4 linked regions of the Homo sapiens genome follow. Changing the gene in region 3 together with the main gene of any one other region gives a genetic interaction. Each region holds a gene or a part of one and is shown on either strand. Other genes may lie near its edges. The genes, in order: TERT, PARP2, ATR and SEPTIN9.

Region 1 (7,991 bases), on a different chromosome or scaffold from region 3:
AATGAAGTGGTGTGCAGGAAATGGCCATGTAAATTACACGACTCTGCTGATGGGGACCGTTCCTTCCATCATTATTCATCTTCACCCCCAAGGATTGAATGATTCCAGCAACTTCTTCGGGTGTGACAAGCCATGACAACACTCAGTACAAACACCACTCTTTTACTAGGCCCACAGAGCACGGCCCACACCCCTGATATATTAAGAGTCCAGGAGAGATGAGGCTGCTTTCAGCCACCAGGCTGGGGTGACAACAGCGGCTGAACAGTCTGTTCCTCTAGACTAGTAGACCCTGGCAGGCACTCCCCCAGATTCTAGGGCCTGGTTGCTGCTTCCCGAGGGCGCCATCTGCCCTGGAGACTCAGCCTGGGGTGCCACACTGAGGCCAGCCCTGTCTCCACACCCTCCACCTCCAGGCCTCAGCTTCTCCAGCAGCTTCCTAAACCCTGGGTGGGCCGTGTTCCAGCGCTACTGTCTCACCTGTCCCACTGTGTCTTGTCTCAGCGACGTAGCTCGCACGGTTCCTCCTCACATGGGGTGTCTGTCTCCTTCCCCAACACTCACATGCGTTGAAGGGAGGAGATTCTGCGCCTCCCAGACTGGCTCCTCTGAGCCTGAACCTGGCTCGTGGCCCCCGATGCAGGTTCCTGGCGTCCGGCTGCACGCTGACCTCCATTTCCAGGCGCTCCCCGTCTCCTGTCATCTGCCGGGGCCTGCCGGTGTGTTCTTCTGTTTCTGTGCTCCTTTCCACGTCCAGCTGCGTGTGTCTCTGCCCGCTAGGGTCTGGGGGTTTTTATAGGCATAGGACGGGGGCGTGGTGGGCCAGGGCGCTCTTGGGAAATGCAACATTTGGGTGTGAAAGTAGGAGTGCCTGTCCTCACCTAGGTCCACGGGCACAGGCCTGGGGATGGAGCCCCCGCCAGGGACCCGCCCTTCTCTGCCCAGCACTTTTCTGCCCCCCTCCCTCTGGAACACAGAGTGGCAGTTTCCACAAGCACTAAGCATCCTCTTCCCAAAAGACCCAGCATTGGCACCCCTGGACATTTGCCCCACAGCCCTGGGAATTCACGTGACTACGCACATCATGTACACACTCCCGTCCACGACCGACCCCCGCTGTTTTATTTTAATAGCTACAAAGCAGGGAAATCCCTGCTAAAATGTCCTTTAACAAACTGGTTAAACAAACGGGTCCATCCGCACGGTGGACAGTTCCTCACAGTGAAGAGGAACATGCCGTTTATAAAGCCTGCAGGCATCTCAAGGGAATTACGCTGAGTCAAAACTGCCACCTCCATGGGATACGTACGCAACATGCTCAAAAAGAAAGAATTTCACCCCATGGCAGGGGAGTGGTTAGGGGGGTTAAGGACGGTGGGGGCGGCAGCTGGGGGCTACTGCACGCACCTTTTACTAAAGCCAGTTTCCTGGTTCTGATGGTATTGGCTCAGTTATGGGAGACTAACCATAGGGGAGTGGGGATGGGGGAACCCGGAGGCTGTGCCATCTTTGCCATGCCCGAGTGTCCTGGGCAGGATAATGCTCTAGAGATGCCCACGTCCTGATTCCCCCAAACCTGTGGACAGAACCCGCCCGGCCCCAGGGCCTTTGCAGGTGTGATCTCCGTGAGGACCCTGAGGTCTGGGATCCTTCGGGACTACCTGCAGGCCCGAAAAGTAATCCAGGGGTTCTGGGAAGAGGCGGGCAGGAGGGTCAGAGGGGGGCAGCCTCAGGACGATGGAGGCAGTCAGTCTGAGGCTGAAAAGGGAGGGAGGGCCTCGAGCCCAGGCCTGCAAGCGCCTCCAGAAGCTGGAAAAAGCGGGGAAGGGACCCTCCACGGAGCCTGCAGCAGGAAGGCACGGCTGGCCCTTAGCCCACCAGGGCCCATCGTGGACCTCCGGCCTCCGTGCCATAGGAGGGCACTCGCGCTGCCCTTCTAGCATGAAGTGTGTGGGGATTTGCAGAAGCAACAGGAAACCCATGCACTGTGAATCTAGGATTATTTCAAAACAAAGGTTTACAGAAACATCCAAGGACAGGGCTGAAGTGCCTCCGGGCAAGGGCAGGGCAGGCACGAGTGATTTTATTTAGCTATTTTATTTTATTTACTTACTTTCTGAGACAGAGTTATGCTCTTGTTGCCCAGGCTGGAGTGCAGCGGCATGATCTTGGCTCACTGCAACCTCCGTCTCCTGGGTTCAAGCAATTCTCGTGCCTCAGCCTCCCAAGTAGCTGGGATTTCAGGCATGCACCACCACACCCGGCTAATTTTGTATTTTTAGTAGAGATGGGCTTTCACCATGTTGGTCAGGCTGATCTCAAAATCCTGACCTCAGGTGATCCGCCCACCTCAGCCTCCCAAAGTGCTGGGATTACAGGCATGAGCCACTGCACCTGGCCTATTTAACCATTTTAAAACTTCCCTGGGCTCAAGTCACACCCACTGGTAAGGAGTTCATGGAGTTCAATTTCCCCTTTACTCAGGAGTTACCCTCCTTTGATATTTTCTGTAATTCTTCGTAGACTGGGGATACACCGTCTCTTGACATATTCACAGTTTCTGTGACCACCTGTTATCCCATGGGACCCACTGCAGGGGCAGCTGGGAGGCTGCAGGCTTCAGGTCCCAGTGGGGTTGCCATCTGCCAGTAGAAACCTGATGTAGAATCAGGGCGCGAGTGTGGACACTGTCCTGAATCTCAATGTCTCAGTGTGTGCTGAAACATGTAGAAATTAAAGTCCATCCCTCCTACTCTACTGGGATTGAGCCCCTTCCCTATCCCCCCCCAGGGGCAGAGGAGTTCCTCTCACTCCTGTGGAGGAAGGAATGATACTTTGTTATTTTTCACTGCTGGTACTGAATCCACTGTTTCATTTGTTGGTTTGTTTGTTTTGTTTTGAGAGGCAGTTTCACTCTTGTTGCTCAGGCTGGAGGGAGTGCAATGGCGCGATCTTGGCTTACTGCAGCCTCTGCCTCCCAGGTTCAAGTGATTCTCCTGCTTCCGCCTCCCATTTGGCTGGGATTACAGGCACCCGCCACCATGCCCAGCTAATTTTTTGTATTTTTAGTAGAGACGGGGGTGGGGGTGGGGTTCACCATGTTGGCCAGGCTGGTCTCGAACTTCTGACCTCAGATGATCCACCTGCCTCTGCCTCCTAAAGTGCTGGGATTACAGGTGTGAGCCACCATGCCCAGCTCAGAATTTACTCTGTTTAGAAACATCTGGGTCTGAGGTAGGAAGCTCACCCCACTCAAGTGTTGTGGTGTTTTAAGCCAATGATAGAATTTTTTTATTGTTGTTAGAACACTCTTGATGTTTTACACTGTGATGACTAAGACATCATCAGCTTTTCAAAGACACACTAACTGCACCCATAATACTGGGGTGTCTTCTGGGTATCAGCGATCTTCATTGAATGCCGGGAGGCGTTTCCTCGCCATGCACATGGTGTTAATTACTCCAGCATAATCTTCTGCTTCCATTTCTTCTCTTCCCTCTTTTAAAATTGTGTTTTCTATGTTGGCTTCTCTGCAGAGAACCAGTGTAAGCTACAACTTAACTTTTGTTGGAACAAATTTTCCAAACCGCCCCTTTGCCCTAGTGGCAGAGACAATTCACAAACACAGCCCTTTAAAAAGGCTTAGGGATCACTAAGGGGATTTCTAGAAGAGCGACCTGTAATCCTAAGTATTTACAAGACGAGGCTAACCTCCAGCGAGCGTGACAGCCCAGGGAGGGTGCGAGGCCTGTTCAAATGCTAGCTCCATAAATAAAGCAATTTCCTCCGGCAGTTTCTGAAAGTAGGAAAGGTTACATTTAAGGTTGCGTTTGTTAGCATTTCAGTGTTTGCCGACCTCAGCTACAGCATCCCTGCAAGGCCTCGGGAGACCCAGAAGTTTCTCGCCCCTTAGATCCAAACTTGAGCAACCCGGAGTCTGGATTCCTGGGAAGTCCTCAGCTGTCCTGCGGTTGTGCCGGGGCCCCAGGTCTGGAGGGGACCAGTGGCCGTGTGGCTTCTACTGCTGGGCTGGAAGTCGGGCCTCCTAGCTCTGCAGTCCGAGGCTTGGAGCCAGGTGCCTGGACCCCGAGGTTGCCCTCCACCCTGTGCGGGCGGGATGTGACCAGATGTTGGCCTCATCTGCCAGACAGAGTGCCGGGGCCCAGGGTCAAGGCCGTTGTGGCTGGTGTGAGGCGCCCGGTGCGCGGCCAGCAGGAGCGCCTGGCTCCATTTCCCACCCTTTCTCGACGGGACCGCCCCGGTGGGTGATTAACAGATTTGGGGTGGTTTGCTCATGGTGGGGACCCCTCGCCGCCTGAGAACCTGCAAAGAGAAATGACGGGCCTGTGTCAAGGAGCCCAAGTCGCGGGGAAGTGTTGCAGGGAGGCACTCCGGGAGGTCCCGCGTGCCCGTCCAGGGAGCAATGCGTCCTCGGGTTCGTCCCCAGCCGCGTCTACGCGCCTCCGTCCTCCCCTTCACGTCCGGCATTCGTGGTGCCCGGAGCCCGACGCCCCGCGTCCGGACCTGGAGGCAGCCCTGGGTCTCCGGATCAGGCCAGCGGCCAAAGGGTCGCCGCACGCACCTGTTCCCAGGGCCTCCACATCATGGCCCCTCCCTCGGGTTACCCCACAGCCTAGGCCGATTCGACCTCTCTCCGCTGGGGCCCTCGCTGGCGTCCCTGCACCCTGGGAGCGCGAGCGGCGCGCGGGCGGGGAAGCGCGGCCCAGACCCCCGGGTCCGCCCGGAGCAGCTGCGCTGTCGGGGCCAGGCCGGGCTCCCAGTGGATTCGCGGGCACAGACGCCCAGGACCGCGCTTCCCACGTGGCGGAGGGACTGGGGACCCGGGCACCCGTCCTGCCCCTTCACCTTCCAGCTCCGCCTCCTCCGCGCGGACCCCGCCCCGTCCCGACCCCTCCCGGGTCCCCGGCCCAGCCCCCTCCGGGCCCTCCCAGCCCCTCCCCTTCCTTTCCGCGGCCCCGCCCTCTCCTCGCGGCGCGAGTTTCAGGCAGCGCTGCGTCCTGCTGCGCACGTGGGAAGCCCTGGCCCCGGCCACCCCCGCGATGCCGCGCGCTCCCCGCTGCCGAGCCGTGCGCTCCCTGCTGCGCAGCCACTACCGCGAGGTGCTGCCGCTGGCCACGTTCGTGCGGCGCCTGGGGCCCCAGGGCTGGCGGCTGGTGCAGCGCGGGGACCCGGCGGCTTTCCGCGCGCTGGTGGCCCAGTGCCTGGTGTGCGTGCCCTGGGACGCACGGCCGCCCCCCGCCGCCCCCTCCTTCCGCCAGGTGGGCCTCCCCGGGGTCGGCGTCCGGCTGGGGTTGAGGGCGGCCGGGGGGAACCAGCGACATGCGGAGAGCAGCGCAGGCGACTCAGGGCGCTTCCCCCGCAGGTGTCCTGCCTGAAGGAGCTGGTGGCCCGAGTGCTGCAGAGGCTGTGCGAGCGCGGCGCGAAGAACGTGCTGGCCTTCGGCTTCGCGCTGCTGGACGGGGCCCGCGGGGGCCCCCCCGAGGCCTTCACCACCAGCGTGCGCAGCTACCTGCCCAACACGGTGACCGACGCACTGCGGGGGAGCGGGGCGTGGGGGCTGCTGCTGCGCCGCGTGGGCGACGACGTGCTGGTTCACCTGCTGGCACGCTGCGCGCTCTTTGTGCTGGTGGCTCCCAGCTGCGCCTACCAGGTGTGCGGGCCGCCGCTGTACCAGCTCGGCGCTGCCACTCAGGCCCGGCCCCCGCCACACGCTAGTGGACCCCGAAGGCGTCTGGGATGCGAACGGGCCTGGAACCATAGCGTCAGGGAGGCCGGGGTCCCCCTGGGCCTGCCAGCCCCGGGTGCGAGGAGGCGCGGGGGCAGTGCCAGCCGAAGTCTGCCGTTGCCCAAGAGGCCCAGGCGTGGCGCTGCCCCTGAGCCGGAGCGGACGCCCGTTGGGCAGGGGTCCTGGGCCCACCCGGGCAGGACGCGTGGACCGAGTGACCGTGGTTTCTGTGTGGTGTCACCTGCCAGACCCGCCGAAGAAGCCACCTCTTTGGAGGGTGCGCTCTCTGGCACGCGCCACTCCCACCCATCCGTGGGCCGCCAGCACCACGCGGGCCCCCCATCCACATCGCGGCCACCACGTCCCTGGGACACGCCTTGTCCCCCGGTGTACGCCGAGACCAAGCACTTCCTCTACTCCTCAGGCGACAAGGAGCAGCTGCGGCCCTCCTTCCTACTCAGCTCTCTGAGGCCCAGCCTGACTGGCGCTCGGAGGCTCGTGGAGACCATCTTTCTGGGTTCCAGGCCCTGGATGCCAGGGACTCCCCGCAGGTTGCCCCGCCTGCCCCAGCGCTACTGGCAAATGCGGCCCCTGTTTCTGGAGCTGCTTGGGAACCACGCGCAGTGCCCCTACGGGGTGCTCCTCAAGACGCACTGCCCGCTGCGAGCTGCGGTCACCCCAGCAGCCGGTGTCTGTGCCCGGGAGAAGCCCCAGGGCTCTGTGGCGGCCCCCGAGGAGGAGGACACAGACCCCCGTCGCCTGGTGCAGCTGCTCCGCCAGCACAGCAGCCCCTGGCAGGTGTACGGCTTCGTGCGGGCCTGCCTGCGCCGGCTGGTGCCCCCAGGCCTCTGGGGCTCCAGGCACAACGAACGCCGCTTCCTCAGGAACACCAAGAAGTTCATCTCCCTGGGGAAGCATGCCAAGCTCTCGCTGCAGGAGCTGACGTGGAAGATGAGCGTGCGGGACTGCGCTTGGCTGCGCAGGAGCCCAGGTGAGGAGGTGGTGGCCGTCGAGGGCCCAGGCCCCAGAGCTGAATGCAGTAGGGGCTCAGAAAAGGGGGCAGGCAGAGCCCTGGTCCTCCTGTCTCCATCGTCACGTGGGCACACGTGGCTTTTCGCTCAGGACGTCGAGTGGACACGGTGATCTCTGCCTCTGCTCTCCCTCCTGTCCAGTTTGCATAAACTTACGAGGTTCACCTTCACGTTTTGATGGACACGCGGTTTCCAGGCGCCGAGGCCAGAGCAGTGAACAGAGGAGGCTGGGCGCGGCAGTGGAGCCGGGTTGCCGGCAATGGGGAGAAGTGTCTGGAAGCACAGACGCTCTGGCGAGGGTGCCTGCAGGTTACCTATAATCCTCTTCGCAATTTCAAGGGTGGGAATGAGAGGTGGGGACGAGAACCCCCTCTTCCTGGGGGTGGGAGGTAAGGGTTTTGCAGGTGCACGTGGTCAGCCAATATGCAGGTTTGTGTTTAAGATTTAATTGTGTGTTGACGGCCAGGTGCGGTGGCTCACGCCGGTAATCCCAGCACTTTGGGAAGCTGAGGCAGGTGGATCACCTGAGGTCAGGAGTTTGAGACCAGCCTGACCAACATGGTGAAACCCTATCTGTACTAAAAATACAAAAATTAGCTGGGCATGGTGGTGTGTGCCTGTAATCCCAGCTACTTGGGAGGCTGAGGCAGGAGAATCACTTGAACCCAGGAGGCGGAGGCTGCAGTGAGCTGAGATTGTGCCATTGTACTCCAGCCTGGGCGACAAGAGTGAAACTCTGTCTTTAAAAAAAAAAAGTGTTCGTTGATTGTGCCAGGACAGGGTAGAGGGAGGGAGATAAGACTGTTCTCCAGCACAGATCCTGGTCCCATCTTTAGGTATGAAGAGGGCCACATGGGAGCAGAGGACAGCAGATGGCTCCACCTGCTGAGGAAGGGACAGTGTTTGTGGGTGTTCAGGGGATGGTGCTGCTGGGCCCTGCCGTGTCCCCACCCTGTTTTTCTGGATTTGATGTTGAGGAACCTCCGCTCCAGCCCCCTTTTGGCTCCCAGTGCTCCCAGGCCCTACCGTGGCAGCTAGAAGAAGTCCCGATTTCACCCCCTCCCCACAAACTCCCAAGACATGTAAGACTTCCGGCCATGCAGACAAGGAGGGTGACCTTCTTGGGGCTCTTTTTTTTCTTTTTTTCTTTTTATGGTGGCAAAAGTCATATAACATGAGATTGGCACTCCTAACACCGTTTTCTGTGTACAGTG
Region 2 (4,798 bases), on a different chromosome or scaffold from region 3:
ATGGGGACACAAAGCCTAACCATATCAGGATCTGACCTGGACTTTAGTACTTCTTAGTTGGAGCAGGTTATGTAAAAACTCATTCCACTTTTTTCCTTTCCTCCTCAAGATGTATTCAGGCTTAGTGACAGTCCTCCAAGGGCTTCCCAAATTTTTGGACATGTGATGAGTCCTAGGATGTTGAGTAGTGGGAGACCTAGGCTGCAGTGGATAAATTTGAAAAAGGCAAGTGAATACATATGCATGGGAAAGAAAAACACGACTTAGCCTTTGTTGCCTCTACCCTTCCTGTGATAATACTCAACAAATTCCAGTTTGCAGAAAAATTGAATTAAACAGGTAAAAGCATTAGCGCCCCCATTAGTGTCCCTCAATGCACAGATGCCACTAAGAACAGGATACTGAATAACCCTCAGAGCAATGAGTAATTTCTGTCCTGGAAATGGAGATCTACTAATGTCAGAAGAAATATGTTCTTGGAGAAATAAAGCCCGAAGAAGCCAGTGGTAGACCTGTACAGTTTTTATTACATAAAATATCACAAAATTCACAAGTACAACACTGCTTATTTTCTTGCTTGAAGATCAGATCTCTGGTTTATTTAATATCAACATTCACCACAGCTGAAGGAAATTAAACTGAACCTTTAAAAGGTACCGCATACGGACCTGGTTGGGGTTATATACAATATATTCATTGTAGTTGAGGGTATAACCATCTGGATTCAGAATTCCTGTGTCACTTGCTGGTCCTAATGGCACTGTACTCCCATTCCTGCCAAATGGAAAAAAAGTGTGTCAACATCAGTCTCTGGTTCAGAAGCTGCAATAGAGAACGTAGTCTTATCTGGCCAAAAGGAGTCTTCTAGTCCTCCTGGTTCTGAGTACTTACAGGGTGACGAAGTGGGCAGAACTGGGAGCCATCTTGCCCAGCCCCTTGGTGCTATGTTTACCTTGAAGCAATCCTTCGGCCTTAGGATTGGCCTCTAGTAGTTCATTACACTGACCTAGAGCTACCTGCAAAGCAAAAAACCTTTGAATTCCCATATCCTACTAAGAATTAGATGGCTCCAAAGCCAAACAGAAAATCCCATCAGTACTTTTTTCCCCTACTCCAGCAGAGGAATCCAATGTACTAGAAATTGTACTTGGTCCTCTCTCAAGCTATCCCAGGTAAACCTCTTGGTTCTGGGGTCAAACTTTTCTCATCGGAAAAAAACTGGAATTAATAAACTAGAGATCACAGACATACTCCTGTCTCACCTCTGATAAGAGCAGCAGTCCTGTATTCTTTAGGCGAGAGGCAAAGCAGTAATTGGCACTCTTGGAAGACATGTCAGCAAAGTAGATTCCTTTCCCAAACTGAAATATATACATGAATACCAAGGTCAGCTTCTAACCCACTGTGTTAGAGAGAAGGTGCATACCACTGACCCTGTTTTTCCATTCCCTTAAACACAATATAGACCCTTCTCCATTTCCCCTCACAATTCTGTTCTAGAGAGGGTAGAAGCCCCTGTGAATTTCCGCCTTCTGAGGGAAAGGTGAGGTATCTTTAGGAATTTAAAGAAAGAGGGACACAGTAAGAGATGACAAGGTTATCAGTGAGCTGGCTTAACTCTTGGGGAGGGGAACCATCTAATCCTAATCTAGGAAAAAAAGCACTGAGAACATTACTGTATCCCTTTCCCCTGTGCTCCTCCCAGAGTTCAATTTCACTCACCATGTAACCTGTGATGGGAGCTTCAGGTGGGGCAATTCGAAGCCCATGGCTCAAGATTCCCACCCAGTTACTCATCCTGGAACCATGCCATAGAAGCATCCTAAGGAAAAGCCAATATTATTGTACTCTGTTGTTCTGCACAGATAGGCCATAAGCATAAAAAAGCCAACACCTTCCTCTGACTCCCTCTTATAAGTTCTACAGCTGTACTTTCGGGCAAGGAGTGTCTTTCCAAACGCAAAGCTAGACTCAGACCTGTTATGAAGGTCCTCTCTGAAGGCTTCTTTCTCACCATCCTTCTCCACTTCAAACAAATCCAGCAAGGTCATGGTATAGTCGCTGTGTGTGGGAGCATGGGTAGATTGTAGGTACTGGGAAATCACCTGTGAAAAATAAGACAAAAAGGCTGATGTAGACTCTACAAGAGACTGAGCTGAACTGAAGAATTTGGGGATTCTGATATAACTTGGCAGACCTTTCTGCTCCCAAACAGTCTTACAAGGCAGCTAGGAAAAGCTTGGCCTTCCCAAATCCCTAGTACATAAAAAGTCTGCCCTAATTGACAATTTGCTCTTGACAAGAAGTAGTTAGAGAACAGTGGGATGGGGGAGGTGGTTAAGGGTGCAAGAATATGAAAATAAATGATCATTTTTCTTACTTTGAACTCATAACTTTCATGGTCAAGGGGGCGCAAGGCACAATGTAGGTTTCTATAGTGTTGGTCCAATGGGTGTTCTGGGCTTTGTAGCTCTGTTTTCACCAGCTTAATAGCAATTTCAATGTCTCCCAAAGCCTGAGAAGATGAGATATAGAATCAATGTGGGAGGACACTGGTATAAGGGATATAATACTTCTCAAATCATACATATCTCACCTCTAGTAATTGTATTTTTTCTGACAGTTCCTTCTGTGTCCGGATTAGTGGAGGAGTACGGAGTCTAAGAACAGAGATATAACCCATAATGAGCTTTCTGACATGTGGCTAAAAGGCGCATGACTAAAAATAGAAAATGACAGATAGGTCCTTTAGAAAACAGGTATGAGAAACAGGTTTTCCATTTGAGAGAGAAAGAGATCTGTAAAGAGATCTTAACTTCCAAATATATAAAATAATATTAAATATATACTCGGTATAAGATGAACTATGTGGATTTTGACTTTTGAGACTAGAGTTAAAATTATTTTTTATAAAATCATTTAAAAATAAGTTATATTGATATCAACAGGGAACAGTTGGATACAGTTCTATCTAGAAGCACAGGTAGACCTGTTGACCACTCAGGGTTATTTCTAGGTCACGGGGCTCTATAAAGCTATAAAAGAAATAGAAATCGGATGTAAACCAGAAAACAGAATCAACAAATGTAAAATGTTATTTTGTCTATCTAATATCACTTGAGTTCACAGAAATGGTGTTTGTGTGGTTTTAGTTACTCAAATAGGAAAAGGGGGTGATATGCCTGAAGGTGTTTTACTTGGGTGGTTGGATAGCTAGACCCATTCTCTCTTGGGTTGGTAACTTCCACTTTGTCAGAGAATATGGCTGTGGTCAAGCCGGGAGATTGCATCCCATATTTGTAAGCTGATTAAATAGGCTACCTATATATCATTTTGTTTCTGTACCTATTCAAGACGATCATTTTCTTAGGAATAAAAGATTTAAAAGATTATAGCTGCTGCTGATGGATACAGGGGATATGTATAGGTAGAAGAACAAAGTGAAGTAACAGCACAGGCCTTACCCAAAGTCATGCGGAATCCTGGTGTAGAATTCATTGCATGCTTCCATGAGAGCTCGTCCATGCTGGCCAGCCCGAATACAATCCTCAATCTTCTTAAGAGACTGGTAACCTGCCTTGATTTGTGCCACTGTCAGCTTCCCTGCAGGCCCACCCAGAGATCAGACTCCAAACTAGGATCCCATCTAGTGAACTGTACTTAACATCCTTCCCTAAAAAAGACTTTCATCTTTCAACTTTTTTTTTTCCTGTTTTTAAGATGGGGTCTCACTCCTGTTGCCCAGGCTGAGTGCCGTGGCACAAACACAGCTAAATGCAGTTCAACCTCCTGGGCTCCGGTGATCCTCCCACTTCAGCTTCGCAAGTAGCTAGATCACAGGCACACACCACCATGCCTGGCTAATTTTTCTATTTTTAGTAGAGATGGGGTCTCACCATGTTGCCCAGGCTGGTTTCAAACTCCTGGGCTCAAGCAATCCACCTGCCTTGGCCTCCCAAAGTGTTGGGATTATAGGCATGACCCATCACACCCAGCCTCAACTTTCAAAATAGTTCCTCTTCCCTCCATACAACCTGTCACCCCAAATCCCATTTTCTTCATTCAGTACTATGAGCAAGCTTTAAATCATAATGATAATAAAGTATCCATTAAAGGAGCTAGGAATTATAAGGAGAGAATGCAGAAGAAAATGTGAAGTCCTACCAAGTGGGGCTTTCTTGGTATTATACTTCATTTCCATCATCATTTCTTCCATGGCCTGAACATTACAGATCAACTTTATTAACTCCTGTACCCGAAGATCTAGCTGTGACTCTGGCTTCAAGGGAGATTTAAGAGATTCCTCTTTCTTTGTTTCCTCTTCATCCTATAGCAAAAAACAAACAAAACACAAGACAATCTAAGAAATCATCTCTAGATTCCTTATAACACCCAATATTATACAATGTAAATGCTTTGTAAAGTTTTTATATTGCACTGTCTAGGGAATAATGAGAAGCAAGGAAAAAAAGGCTGTACAGGTTCAGTACAGAAGCAATTTTTCAAACATTTTTGATTCTCAGTTCATTGAATCCATGGATATAGAGGGTTGACCATCCAAGTTCTGCCTCCCACATTTTACAACTCAGAATAAGTCTAGAAAAAAAAGGCTTTCCTCATGACGTCAGTGTGTAAAGACAGCTATTATGTCTCAGATCTTCCCATCTTAAAAAAGACTAAAACTTCTCCATTTTTTTGGATATGTGACTGTTTCCGGACAGTTTCAGCATCCTGGTATACCTCAGTTTATCTAAATTAAATTTTTTATGGTGGTATATATCCAGAAGTGAAAACAAAT
Region 3 (7,028 bases):
GAAGCTAGGAGTTCAAAGACCAGCCTGGGCAACAAAGTGAGATCCCTCTCTACAAAAAATTTAAAAATTAGCTGGGTGTAGTGGCACATACTATGGTTCCAGCTACTCAAGAGGCTGAGGTGGGAGGATCACTTGAGCCTGGGAGATCAAGGATGCAGACTGCAGTGAGCCATGATTGCGCCACTGCACTCTAGCCTGGGTGACAGAGCAAGACCCTGTCTCTTAAAAAAAAAAAAAGAAAGAAGAAAGGCCGGGCATGGTGGCTCATGCCTGTAACCCCAGCACTTTGGGGGGACAGAGTGGGTAGATTACCTGAGGTCAGGAGTTGGAGACTAGCCTGACCAACATGGTGAAACCCTGTCTCTACTAAAAATGCAAAAATTTGCCAGGCCTGGTGGCACACGCCTGTAATCCCAGCTACTCCGGAGGCTGGGGCAGGAGAATCGTCTGAACCCAGGAGGCAGAGGTTGCAGTGAGCCAAGATGGCGCCATTGTACTTCAGCCTGGGCAACAAGAGCAAAACTCCGTCTCGGGGAAAAAAAAAAAAAGAAAAAAAGAAAAGCACATTTCTCAAGGGGATCTTAGCTTTATTGTTAACCTTACATTACAAGATTTAGGGAGTACTTTCTATTGCTTTCAATAGAAAGTTTCTATTGAAACTTCAGAACAAGTTTCAACTTACTACCTAAACAAATGGATCTTCTAAGTATTTGTATAAATCTCATACTTCATAAAAATTTATACTCCATTACCACTGGAAAGTGGCCAAGAAGATACACTCTATAGTCCTCAGTTGGGCAAAGTAATTTAACTATTTGAAGTTCTCAAGGTCCAAGGTTGTAACAGGGGGCACATTAAGACGATCTCTGGTATCACTAAAGAAGATAATCTAATATTGAATCTTACAATATTGAAACAACCATCAGGTATGCCCCATTTAGGCTGTCAAATCACAAGAGTATTCGAAAAATCCCAAAATCACCTCTCCTACCAGTTTTGTGATGCGATCTAATACCAGTTATCCCATTTATAACTAATCAATACTGAGCACTGAATCTATAAAGCATGTAACTTCCTGTAATTTTTCAAGGCTTCAGTCTAATTCTTTTACTGATTTGAAAAGCAGAGCTTAAATAGGTTTTAAAGTATTAAATAAGTCATAATCACTCACCAAGTTTTACTGGACTAGGTATTTTTTTTTTCAGTAGGAAAAGGAATGGCTTGCAGACAGAAGCTTTTAGTTGAGAAGATGAACATTCATGTTGAGAAGTGGCTTTCAAGTTCCTACAGAAGAGGTCCACATGTCCGTGTTCAGAGAAAGGTTCTGTTAAAGAACTTGTCAGATAAAACATGCCGTGAAGAGTACAGACAAGTTGACCAAGTATAGAAGCAAATTCTTTCTTGACAATGTCAGAATCATCTTTGACTTTATCTCTGGGGAAAAAAAAGAAAAAGTACTAAACTTTCTTGCCTAATTTTGTGGTCTAAATAGTCTTGCTTAATTTGGGACAAAAGTACTGGTAAAACAAAGCCTAGAAGGAAAAAATGTTAAATTCTAAAACTAAAAGCAACATTTGCTTTACATATTCAACAATAAACACAACCCTGCATACATAGCCAGACAATTATGATCTTTCCAATAGAGTGATATATTCAAATTAAAATCTTAGTACATACATAAGAATCTTGGGAACTCTGTTACAAGAATTCTGCTGCTGCAATAAGATAAAAAATCCACTAACACAACTAGCCCGGATTACTTCATGGGAGCTCTGCAGGGCCCAGTTGTAAACTGCTGTTCTCCACTCAAGGAATATTCTTCTTGGAAACAGAGTCAGAAGAAACACACATCGTGATTGTGCCTGTGGTGCTGAAAAAATTAAGTCTATTAAACAAGATTTCTACTAATGTTAATTTTATGTATACACATATACATATATATAAGTAAAGTAACATTTGTGTATACATATATATAAATAAAAGTCAAGTAACACTTAAAATACATTTAATACCTAATTTAATTAAAAGCTCCTTTTCAGAAAATAAAGCAAGTGCACTGAAAAAGGTCTATACACAACCTTACTAAATAATCAAGGAAATGCAAATTGAAAATCATACCTACCAGATAGGAAAAAGAAAAAATTTAAGATACTTAACTCCATGACATTTTTTATTTTCTAGATAGCAAAAATTTTAAAGTCAGCTAAGTGTCAGTGAGGATGTGGAACTCATACTCTGCTAACAGGAGTGTAAACTGGTGTATCTTTGGAGAACAATACAGCAGAATAGAGGTGAAGATGTGCAAACTCTATAACCCAACAATACTACTCCTAGGTAGGTAAAAACGTTAAAATAATGCTTCTCAAACTTTAATATGGATATGAATCACCTATCTTGTTAAAATGCAGATTCTGATCAGTAGGTCTGGGTGGAGCATAAGATTCCCCATTTCTTTCTTTCTCTCTCTTTTTTTTTAATGTGCTCTTTCAGCAGAATCAAAGACGCTCCATTTCTAACAAGTCCCTAAATGGTGGCGATGCTACTGGTCTGTGGAGCATACTTTTCAAACAGCAAGGACTTAGAATGACTAAAGAATCATTTATAAAAATATTCATTTAAATGTTGCTTGTAATTGTGAAAAGTTGGAAACAACTTGATTGTCCACCAATAGGAGGTCTGATAGTGTCCATCCAAATTTGGCTACTATTTGGAAGTTTAAATAAAAACTAGAGTTACCCATATCACCATGGATAAGTCTCATAAAGATAGTGTTGATCAACAAAATGTAAGCTGTAAGAAGCAAAACAATTTCTTATATTATTTATAAATAAATACATATATAGTAAAAGTAATAGAACATTCAACAGAACAATCAACACCAAATTCAGAACAGTAGTAATCTCTGGGGAAAAAAATGAGGGGAATGAAATCATAGAGGGACAAAGGCTTCCATCATATCTCTAATAGCCCAGGCTGGAGTGCAGGGGTGCAATCTTGGCTCACTGAAACCTCTGCCTCCTGGGTTCAAGAGATTCTTGTATCTCAGCCTCCCTAGTAGCTGGGACTACAGGCGTGAGCCACCATGCCTGGCTAATTTTTGTATTTTTAGAAGAGATGAGGTTTTGCCATGTTGGCCAGGCTGGTCTCAAGCTCCTGACCTCAAGAGATCCGCATGCCTTGGCCTCCCAAAGTGCTGGGATTACAGGCGTGAGCCACCGTGCCTGGCCTAATGTTTCTATTTCTTAAACTGAGAAGTTGGTATAAGAATTTTTGGTATATTGTTCTTCTTTTTAAAATATTTCTCAAATACTTCCTAATTTTATTAAATGAAGATAATGATATGTAAGGACACATTGCAAATGTTTTACAAAAAGAAAGGAAATGGGATATGTGGGGCAGGCTTTTATGTGTTACTTTTTATGTATCTAACCCCCTTCTGAACTATTAAAAATGTACCTGCTCTTTTAATTATTGAAAAAAATATAAATAAGTCTTAGAAGTCCTATATAGAGATGAGTTAAAACAAACCACACAAGGCCAGGCATGGTGGCTCACGCCTGTAATCCTAGCACTTTAGAAGGCTGGGGCAGGTGGATCACTTGAGGTCAGGAGTTCGAGACCAGCCTGGCTAACATGGTGAAACCCCGCCTCTACTAAAAATATAAGAATTAGCTGGGTATGGTGGTGCGCACCTGTAATCCTAGCTACTCAGGAGGCTGAGGCAGGAAAATTGCTTGAACCTGAAGACGGAGGTTGCAGCAAGCCGAGATTGCGCCACTGCACTCCAGCATGGGCGACAGAGTAAGACTCCGTCTCAAAAATAAATAAATAAATAAATAAATAAATAAATAAATAGATAGATAGATAGATAGATAGATAAATAAAACAAACCACACACACATTCTTGTGAGCACTTACAATAGCTATCTGAAATCCTACAGCTTAATGTTAGAAGATTAGCGGCAAATGTGGTCAACTTTAAACAGCCATCATCAGAATGGGAATAAATCCATGGAAGTGAGAGCATACCACATAAATCTTCCAGGATATGATCTTCAAATGAACTGTTTACTACAGAAGCACAAAATAAGTCATTAATTATAACTTTTCCTTAATCATATCTCTTTTAAATAAAAATAAAGACATTTGAAATACTATCATAATGATCATTGGATAAGCAGAAATTCTTAACACAGAGATCTATAAACGATGGTCTGAGGTCTGTGAACCCAAAGAAATTAAATGTGACTTTATAAAAACATGTTATCTATGCCTGTTTTAAAGAAGAATCACGGCATTCCTCAAACTCCCAAATTAAAAAACTTTGAAGTTATAAATAATTTCTATTGACTAAAGAATCAAAATATTATGCACATAAATTGGCAACTCAGAACTTCTATTATTGACAAATTTAATAGAACTGAAATCAGGAAAAAACTTCTGAGTATTCCAAACACGCACTTAGGCTTCAGGCAAAAAAGAAAGCATATTTCTATACTGATTATCTTTAAAGGTTATTCTGATCTGTTGCTAATTTGTACTCACCTTGCATATAAATCAAAGCATCATAAATTTTCACCACCTTATCAATGGTTGCCTCCAGGTCCAGTTTCTGAACAGATTCTAACAAACTTCTACAGCTCTTAAGCACTTTTGTGTAAAAATCCAATGACATCCAAGTTATCACTACAGAAGGTTTCTTCTTGGATTTATGTTGACAGTCCTTGAAAGTACGGCTGCAGTAAGTACATTTTGTTAAAAACATTGGAATTAAGATGAATTTTGTTATAGTCAAACATAAAATTGTAGTAAAGCCAAAAGAAATTGTGAGTACGAAATTTATCTATAACAATTTAAAGTAAACATGCAAATCAAGTAATATGTTATTACTATTTTAAGTTGAATCTATTTATGTCAGCTTAAATCACCCTTAGGATTTGGGAACCAAATGACTTTGGGAGCCTGAGGTGGGAGGATCACTTGAGCCCAGGAGTTTGAGACCAGCCGGGCCAATATAGGGAAACCCATCTCTACAAAAAAAATTTTTTCTAAATTAGGGTGTGGCGGCACATGCCTATAGTTCCAGCTACATGGGAGGCTCACTTGAGCCCCGGATAGAGATCAAGGCTGTAGTGAGCCATGATCATGCCACTGTGCACCAGCCTGGGAGACAAAGCGAGACCCTGTCTTCAACAGCCAAACACTGGGTTTTGAGTTGTACACAAATGTGTTCTGGTACTTTCTAATCATGTGTCCCCAGGAAAGTCAGTTTTGGCTTCAGACAAAAAAGAGCCTCAGTTTCTCTGAGTGTCAGTTTCTAATTTTTAAAATAGGCATAATAGCCTTTACCTTACAGGACTATTGTAAATATTAACTAAGATATATACAGTGCTTAGCACCGTACCTAGCATTTGACTCAATAGAAAATAAATTTATTAACTACTTCAGTGAAAAGTTTGTGTTCTAAGGTTACATGAGTCAAGTGAATAATGAGTAAACAGTAAATCCAAGTTCATTACAGGAAACCCAACCCCAAGAAACAAGAAGTTTGTTTTACCAGTTCATGTTTTGATGAGAACAATGAACAGTACACAGAGCAGTCAGTTGTAAGACAACAGCAATTCCTTCTAACATCTCAATAACAGGATTCTTTAGGCCACTGTATTCAAGGGAAATCTGAAGGGATTCAGCTTTCTGTTTCAGTGCACTCCATAATATGCTCTTTTGGTTCATGTCCACATGTTTAATTCTATAATTATGAATATAGTAGAGAGATATTCATATGCAATATAAATTTGGTTAAAACATGAAACATATTTAGAATAAAACATACTATGTAATATCAACTATTCAAAAAAATTTTTTTTTTTTGTGAGACAGAGTCTCACTCTGTCTCCCAGGCTGGAGTGCAGTGGCGCCATCTCGGCTCACTGCAAGCTCCGCCTCCCGGGTTCACGCCATTCTCCTGCCTCAGCCTCCCGAGTAGCTGGGACTACAGGCGCCAACCACCACGCTTGGCTAATTTTTTGTATTTTTAGTAGAGACAGGGTTTCACCGTGTTAGCCAGGATGATCTCGATCTTCTGACCTCGTGATCTGCCCGCCTCGGCCTCCCAAAGTGCTGGGATTACAGGCGTGAGCCACCGCGCCCAGCCTGAAATTTATACTAAGATTTAAAACAATTAAAACAATGTTCAGAAGTAACTGAAATATGGCAACTTAGCCACTTTATAAAAAATAGTTGGTTAATGTTTTAAAAATTGCTAATAGATGCACAGTCTCAAAGATTTTTCACATATTAAAAAGTTAAATTAGATAAGCATATAAAAACATGCAAAGTAACTATATTTAACCATGAAATGTTTTATACTACTAACCGTCTACAATAATTATAAAAATATTTTAAGCACTCCCTTGGCTACATTTAGAAAGATGTTCTTTGTGTATTTAAATCAAAGCACTTAACTAAAGCTGATTTTTAAAAGTGAACAAAGTTTTATTTAATGGCTAAATACAAACTGAATGAAGGTCATCATACTCCTCAGTCTGTTTTGGTGCTCTTTTAGAAGGGTTTAGAGACGAGCTGAGACGACGCCTTTTGGGTGATATTCCATCACTATTACTGCTGAGGTTTTCCTGTTGAGTTTGGCATTGAATCTCCTCAATGATTTCCATACTTTCCATTTTCAAAGCTGCATAAAGTGGGCCCAACAAGTACTGAGAAAATAAAAAATAATTTCCAGAAATATTCCTTAGAAAATATATTTATATTATTCATAGGCAGCAAGAATGTATTAGATGTTAGGTGTTTTCTAGTGAAACTACTTTTAGAGTCTCATAAAGCAAAATAAACATCTAAATTGATCTATATTATTTAAGTCTATATATAGACTATGGTTCTATAGTCTTAGAAGGTTTAAACAAATCCTTCTCTCTACATCCTGTTTTTCCTCTTACCAAAATGCTATAAATTTTAATTCCCTTATAAAAAATTCTGTAAGGGAATTACCAACTTTCTTCATGTAACTT
Region 4 (7,317 bases), on a different chromosome or scaffold from region 3:
TGAGCCCCCAAGTGTAACCACTGGACCACACTGCCTGTAGACTACCACTACCTCCACCCCATTGGAAGGCCGGGTGAGGCAATCGGGAAAGCCTGGAGCAGCAGTGGAGCTGCCAGAGAGAACCTGTCCCCAGTGTCCCCCTGGATCCTGCAGCTGCCCTGTGTGGGCCCTTGCTGCCTTCCGCATTGGAAAAGACCTTCTTACAGATGGGGTCTCATGACGCCACCCAGGCTGGAGTGCCGTGTCTATTTCCAGGCGCTGTCACAGGGCTGCAGCCTTGAACTCCTGGCTTCAAGCGATCCTCCTGTCTCAGCCTCCTGAGTAGCCTCCTGGGCTCAAGCGATCCTCGTGTCTCAGCCTCCTGAGTAGCCTCCTGGGCTCAAGCGATCCTCGTGTCTCAGCCTCCTGAGTAGCTGGGACTTCAAGCGCACCTGGCCAAGTCCCTTTTTATTCTCCACTACTCAAGACTTCTCCTTCCTCAAGGCCCAGCTCAATCTCACCTCCACCTAAAACCTCCGGGGCATTCCTGTAGTATTTGGAGGCTGAACTGCTCAGGAGGGAAGGGTGTTAATGAGCTGGTGTCTCGCCCTCATCCTGACTCCCGGTGAGAATGTAAGTTCTCTGCAGGCAAGGACTATATCTCATTACCATTTCTGTACCCACTCAGACTTGGCCATGTGTGCCCAGCACATAAAGTGTCTTCGATGACTGTCTATAGACCCACGGTACTTGAGATTGCCCCAACACATCCTTCTAAAATCTTTCTCCTTTTCAGAGGCTCACGAATGTTCAAACCAGGTCTACCGGGAACAACATTATGGTCATTCCGTTTATTCTGAAGCCCACATACAGGTCTGGAAGCAATAATCCCGCACAGTCTAGATGAAAAAATAAAGACCTTCCTGTTGTCCTTGGATTGTCAGAGCCTTGGGGGATTTTTAACATCTTTTGCTGCTTTCCTTAATTTCATGGTGTCGATGGCTTGTTGGGGGGTCAGCCTGACTCCTGCGAGTGCCCGTACCCGGAAAAGGGCTGGTGCCAAGACAGCTCCAGGACACTCAGAATGAGGGCAAGAGGCCACCCCCACCATCAGCCCCCTCCAGTCCCACTCCATACAACTGCAACACAGTGACCCAGCACACCTTGGGCCACTGCCAAGCAGGGAGCAAACCAGAAATGGTCTGAGCCCTCCCTTCCCCCATCCTCAGAGGGGCCTGCCCCTTTAGGTAAACACAAGGAGGCACCGAGGCTGCTGTACAAGAGTTGGTTCCTGCTCACTCCACAAACTCTACTTCCACCTACTGCAAAAGGTTCTGTCCTTTTTTTTAAAAAAAAAAAAAAAAAAGAAACCCAGTGAGGGGTGGGGTAGGTGTGTGTGGAGGAGAGGAGAAAAGGACAAGTGATGGTCTCCCCACCTCCCAGTAAGCCGCAGGTGCAGAGACTCCAAGCCTGCCTCAGGGCCCTTCCGGCATCTGTGCAGGAGGGTCTCCGCAGAAAAAACCCAGGACCCACGACCTGGGAGGACCCCGGTCACCCCCACTGTCTGGACCCACCAGTGGGAGGTAAAGTGTAAGAAACCAAGGGCAAAGGGCCCTCCCTGGGCGGGCTAGAGATCCCCTGGAAAGGGCCATGCACCGCGCGATCCCCACAACAATCTCAAGTATTTGGAGCATGTTGGGGAGGAAGCCCCGGTGCCAAAACCAAGCATGTGCCACCTGGAAGCCCGCTCCCGCCCACCAGCACACCAACCCACCCACGCTCCTGACAGAGCTGTGCTCCGGGTGCGTAGAGGGCCATCTTGTTCGCAACAACCGGGTGAAAGTTGAAATTCTAAGCTACTGACCCAGAAGGGTATTTTCGGGGAAGTTCTGAGTAATCCTCTTTGAGACAAGGTACTTTATCACTCATTTTGGTTCCTAAATATGGAAAGCCAGAGGAAACCGACAATGGCCCAAAGGCAGGGGGATGGCCCCGATGACTCCTTCACCTCCAACTAAGGCCCATGATTCTGTTCTCCTATCAATAAAAATTAATTCATGGATCCTTGGCAGGTACCTTTCTATCTGAATGAATTAAAGGAGGGACATTAAACAAACGGTTTCTAGATTTAGAAGAGGAGACGCTATTTATAATTTGAGGACTGAGGAGGACAAAGGATCCTGCCTGCCTGGATCCTTTGGAGAAAACCACAAAGGAAAAAAAAAAGGAAGGAAAAGACAAATAATGAAGATCTGGATTTCTCTTAACCTGCCCTTGTGGCCTCGGTGTGCCCATCTGTGAAATGGAACTTCAGAGTGCCAGAGCGGGAGCCTCTTATGAAATGAAAGCTCCTGAACCGGCTCATGGTGAGGCCCAAGTCAGGCCCCCTTCGCCTACTTAAGGCGGGCCCTGCTAGGGTGGAGTGAGGATGTCAGCCGCGGGCGGCGTCCTGAGCGCAAAACGTGAACCCGAGTCGCCAAGTTTGGGCGCTGCTGGACGGTCCCATCTGGAGGCCGTCCCGTGCCCCACTAAGTAGAGGAGAAACCGAAGAGAATCCGAAGAAAGGATGCTGCGGCCTGGACCACCAGCCCTAGAGGCTGAACCCAAGGACACCCCTCCACCTAGCCCCGACCCCATTCACCCACACAGACGCACAGGGACCCAAAGCACCCGGCCGACCTGGAAAGTCAGCGATTCCTGCGAGGGTGCAAGGGGCGAGGAAGAGGGAGCGTCCCCCAGGGCAGCCCCTCCGACACTCGAGCAAGGGCTGGAGACAGCGCAGGGGACGGTCGGCTCAGGTCGAAAGCGGCCCGACAGCGGCCCTGTCCTGGGAGGAACTCGACCTGCAGTGTGCCCGCCGCGGGGACTCGCTCAGCTCCGGGGGCGCCTCGCCACTCCCGGCCGCAGGCACTCAGGTGAGCAGCGCTGGTCCCGGGACACCGACCCCTCCCCACCCCGGGCGCGAAGCCCACCTGAGTAAGACTTCTTCATGGTGCCTCCGTGGCCGCCGCTCCCAGGAAAGTGTGGCGGCGAGGCAGCGGGGCGCGCGCTCCCAGGGCGCTAATCCTGGGCCGGTAGTAGGAAGGCGGGAAGAGGGGGCGGCCCGCCGTCTGGAGTGCACCGACCGGGCCCCGCCCCGGCCCCGCCCCCGCCCCGCCCCTCCCCGGAGATGCGCATAGAACCCCGGCCCAGCCGGCTGTGGTCCCGCCCCTGACCCGCCCCCTCCCCGCCCCGTGAACGTGCGCGCCGAGCCCCACCCCCGCCCACCCCTGCGCTGCGCTGCACCTGGCGGAGCGGGGCTGGCGGGCGCCGGGCCTGGGAGGGGGCGCCCCCGCGCGGCAGCGCAGACCAGACCAGACCAGGCCAGGCCGGGGGTGGGGGCCGCCTGCGTGGCCCGCCGCGCCCGCAGCTCTGCACCCCCAGCTCCCCGCGCTGGCGCCAATGGCTGGTTCCGGGAGTCGCCGCACTTCCCAGTCCCGAGTCCGGGCGGGGCGGGCCCGGCCAGGTGGAAGCGGGCGGAGGTGCGGGCGCTCCGGGCGGCCCCGCCGGGCGAGGCGGCGGCGCCGGGCACCGCGGCGGCGCCGGGCACAGCCGGGGGTCGGAGCCGGGGTGCCGGCTTAGTGGGCCGGGGTAGGGCGGGACAGGACACCTGTCCTGCTACTTTTCTGGTAATCAAAAGGGCAGAGTGCGTCGATTGAGTTGGAGCCTTAGTTTCCTCACCTGTAAATGGGCGCGTTGGACAGATGATCATTTGTTCTCCCTGCGCTGGGCACCGTGCGCAGCTCGGTGTATCGGTGCAGCGGGGCAGACACAGGGAGCCGCCCTTTACAACTCGGGTAACGCAGGCAGTGGTGAGAGGATGCAAAACTTGCACGGAAGAATTCTCTCTACTTGGATATCCTTAAAGTCTCCACGATAAAGCGGTGTTTCCAACGTACAGAGGAAGAAGTGACTAATTATGACTGGAGGGTGGTGTCAGAGTTTTATTGAGGCGAAATCAAAACAGGGTTTTAAGGAATGAGCAGGAATTAGCCAGGCAGCCAAGGTGATGGAAGGCAGCTGTTCCCGAAAGAGGGAAGGGCGTGGCGGAGCCTGGGAGGCCTGAGGTATCACAGCGAGTGTGGAGAGACAGAGGCAGGGCCGGGCCCTTGCACAGCTGCCAATGGAGGCCGTAGAGGACGAGAGGAAGGCGGGAGGCCAGTTGGGAAGCGCTCGCTAGTTCTGGGTAGGGGCGCAGCATTGCCTTCTCCTGCAGCCCTCCCAAAAATGCACAGGAGGCTGAAAGTGTCACTAACAGCCCCGAAAAATCCTCCTCCTCTTCCCCTCTCCTTTACTCTCCTTGGGGGTCCAAGAAGCATTTTCATTTCCTGCCTGAGTGTGGGAAACTTATATGCATGAGAACGGAGGCCTATGTGGCACCGTGGGTTCGTTCCGGCCCACCTGCTTCCTTTCTTGAGTAATCTGTCCAGCCACAGCCCTGCAGAGGGAGCAGCCCAGCCAGAGGAGTTTCCCCTCACCCCAGGTAGAGCTGATTGGACCGGAGTGGACACTGGACTTCAACTGAGTCCACCCCTTTCCTTATCTGGGGGTTAGAGGCTCAGGAGGCCTCGGGAGGGAAGTGCTGTAAGGGAGGGGAGCAGGGAGTATGGACGAATTGTGAACAGCGTCCTGGATTCTGGGATGTCCACACCCTAACCGCAACCCCCACCCACACGCCCACTCACCGCTTGTACCAGCACCAGCAGATTCCGGCTTAGGCCGTGTCCTGACTTGGCCAGCAAGCACCATGATGACACTGCCCCCAGCCTAGCCATGATGACACTGCCACGAGCCTAATGCCTGGGATTCCCAAAGTCCAGCGGTGTCTCAAGAATCTGGGTTATGGGTGCATTGCTGGCTTTGTCCATTTTACTCAGCACAAGTCAGAGGTGCCCTGGAGCACAGTCACCCTGAGGATGCCAGCCCTGGCTGTTCCCTGGCTTTGGGTAGGTGGGTTCCTCTGCGGATGCTCACGCTTCTGCCTGGGGTCACAATTCACAGGAACCTGGGCACCCAGGACCCAAGGACACCTGCGTGGAGTGATGTTGGACACATCACATGGGTGCCTCCTGTGTGATGGTTCCTGGATATCCGAATTTTCCTTCCGATTCCAAGAAATCAGAAAGAAGGACAAGAGAGAGGGAGGGAAGGCTGGGAATGAGGGTTCTACACATTTTTGAGATGCATGAAGCTTAATCTGTCATGAAATTAGAGTTAAAAAAAAAAAAGAAAAATTAAAGAGATGCACGAAGCTTAATTGTTTAAGCCTCAAATTTTGTTTTTATTTATTTATTTTTATTTTTTATTTTTTGAGAGGGAGTTTTGCCCTCGTCGCCGAGGCTGGAGTGCAATGGTGCGATCTCAGCTCACTGCAACCTCTGCCTCCCAGGTTCAAGTGATTCTCCAGCCTCAGCCTCTTGAGTAGCTGAGATTACAGGTGCCCGCCACACCTGGCTAATTTTTTTTTTTTTGTAATTTTTTTCTTTTTTAGTAGAGACAGGGTTTCACCATGTTGGCCAGGCTGGTCTCAAACTCCTAACCTGAGGTGATCCCCCCGCCTCAGCCTCCCAAAGTGCTGGGATTACAGGTGTGAGCCACCGCACCTGGTTTATTTATTTATTTATGAGACAGAGTCTCCCTCTGTCACCCAGGCTAGAGTGCAGTGGCATGATCTCAGCTCACTACAACGTCCACCTCCCGGATTCAAGCAATTCTCTTGCCTCAGCCTCCCAAGTAGCTGGGATTACAGGCACACGCCACCACAACCGGCTAATTTTTGTATTTTTAGTAGAGACGGGGTTTTGCCATGTTGGCCAGCCTGGTCTCCAACTCCTGACCTCAAGGTGATCCACCTGCCTAGGCCTCCCAAAGTGCTGGGATTACAGGTGTGAGCCACTGCGCCTGGCCTATTTTTTTTTTATTTTTTTAATTTAATTTTTATTTTTTGAGATGGAGTTTTGCTCTTGTCACCCAGGTTGGAGTTTAATGGCATGATCTTGGCTCACTGCAACCTCTGCCTCCCACATTCAAGCGATTCTCCTGCCTCAGCCTCCCAAGTAGCTGGGATTACAGGTGCCTGCTGCCACCAGGCCCGATTAATTTTTGTATTTTTAGTAGAGATGGGGTTTCACCACGTTAGCCAGGCTGGTCTCCAACTCCTGACCTCAAGTGATCTGCCTGCCTTGGCCTCCCAAAGTGCTGGGATTACAGGCATGAGCCACCACACCCGGCCTAAGCATCAAGTTTTAATTGTTTTTCACAGACAACTCTCTAAAACATATGACACAATCCCCTGCCTTGGTGAGAAGAGCATAGCAAACATATGACTCTTTCCCTCCTGGCTCAGGACCGTCACGATGGCACCTTGAACGGTTATCAACGCACACGCCGCCATCTTACTCCTTCGCAAATGTCCCCAGGCTACTGTGCTATCCAATTTTTAAAAATTGTCTTTCAAACACTCTGTTCCTCCTCCTCCTCCTCCTCCTAATTGAGTGCTTATGACCAGTTGTGTAATTTCCCCAATTCTCAGTGCCCACTCCTATGAAAGGGGAGGGCAGTACCCAACCCCCAACTCACACAGCTGGTGTGGTGATTAGAAAGCTAATGGGTCTGACGTGCCTCACTGTGCTCTGGTCACTAAAATATGAAACACATGGCATTGGCTTTAGGCGCAGGCAGTGGGCAGAAGCCTGGAGGAAGTTGGCAAGGGCTTGCAGGAAGGTTAAGAGATGATCCTGGCCCAAAAGTGCATGACCCTGCTACTCGGGAAGTTGAGGCAGGAGGATCACTTGAGCCCAGTAGGTCAAGATCACCCTGGGCAACATAGTGAGATCACATCTTTTTTTTTTTTTTTTTTTTTTTTTTTTGAGACGAAGTCTTGCTCAGTCGCCCAGGCTGGAGTGCAGTGGCGCGATCTCGGCTCACTGCAAGCTCCGCCTCCCGGGTTCACGCCATTCTCCTGCCTCAGCCTCCCGAGTAGCTGGGACTACAGGCGCCCGCCACCACGCCCGGCTCATTTTTTTTTTTTTTTTTTTAGTAGAGACGGGGTTTCACCGTGTTAGCCAGGATGGTCTCGATCACCTGACCTCATGATCCACCCGCCTCGGACTCCCAGAGTGCTGGGATTACAGACGTGAGCCACCATGCCCGACGATCACATCTTTTAAAAAAAAAAAAAAAAAAGAAAAGAAAAAAGAAAGAGGCCGGGTGCAGTGGCTCAGGCCTGTAATCCCAGCACTTTGGGTGGCCAAGGCAGGTGGATCACCTGAGGTCAGGAGTTTAAGACCAGTCTGGCCA

Evidence for each region.
Region 1: of ATR (region 3) and TERT, extra expression of one rescues a mutant of the other (dosage rescue), as found in Homo sapiens cells (one study listed by BioGRID).
Region 2: changes in ATR (region 3) and PARP2 are lethal when combined (synthetic lethality), as found in Homo sapiens cells (one study listed by BioGRID).
Region 4: changes in ATR (region 3) and SEPTIN9 are lethal when combined (synthetic lethality), as found in Homo sapiens cells (one study listed by BioGRID).

The regions. Positions count from the first base shown.
Region 1 is NC_000005.10:1,292,059-1,300,049, reverse strand, and holds the start of TERT (telomerase reverse transcriptase), read left to right. Parts: upstream 1-4,981; 5' UTR 4,982-5,060; coding exon 5,061-5,279; intron 5,280-5,383; coding exon 5,384-6,737; intron 6,738-7,991. UniProt on the Homo sapiens protein: Telomerase is a ribonucleoprotein enzyme essential for the replication of chromosome termini in most eukaryotes. Active in progenitor and cancer cells. Inactive, or very low activity, in normal somatic cells.
Region 2 is NC_000014.9:20,353,614-20,358,411, reverse strand, and holds the end of PARP2 (poly [ADP-ribose] polymerase 2), read right to left. Parts: intron 4,328-4,798; coding exon 4,165-4,327; intron 3,604-4,164; coding exon 3,465-3,603; intron 2,661-3,464; coding exon 2,597-2,660; intron 2,516-2,596; coding exon 2,381-2,515; intron 2,106-2,380; coding exon 1,978-2,105; intron 1,823-1,977; coding exon 1,723-1,822; intron 1,362-1,722; coding exon 1,263-1,361; intron 1,017-1,262; coding exon 892-1,016; intron 775-891; coding exon 615-774; 3' UTR 508-614; downstream 1-507. UniProt on the Homo sapiens protein: Poly-ADP-ribosyltransferase that mediates poly-ADP-ribosylation of proteins and plays a key role in DNA repair.
Region 3 is NC_000003.12:142,554,706-142,561,733, forward strand, and holds part of ATR (serine/threonine-protein kinase ATR), read right to left. Parts: intron 6,717-7,028; coding exon 6,538-6,716; intron 5,750-6,537; coding exon 5,558-5,749; intron 4,737-5,557; coding exon 4,546-4,736; intron 4,072-4,545; coding exon 3,919-4,071; intron 1,871-3,918; coding exon 1,678-1,870; intron 1,435-1,677; coding exon 1,172-1,434; intron 1-1,171. UniProt on the Homo sapiens protein: Serine/threonine protein kinase which activates checkpoint signaling upon genotoxic stresses such as ionizing radiation (IR), ultraviolet light (UV), or DNA replication stalling, thereby acting as a DNA damage sensor.
Region 4 is NC_000017.11:77,277,189-77,284,505, reverse strand, and holds the start of SEPTIN9 (septin-9), read right to left. Parts: upstream 3,008-7,317; 5' UTR 2,971-3,007; coding exon 2,952-2,970; intron 2,895-2,951; exon of another isoform or gene 2,609-2,894; intron 1-2,608.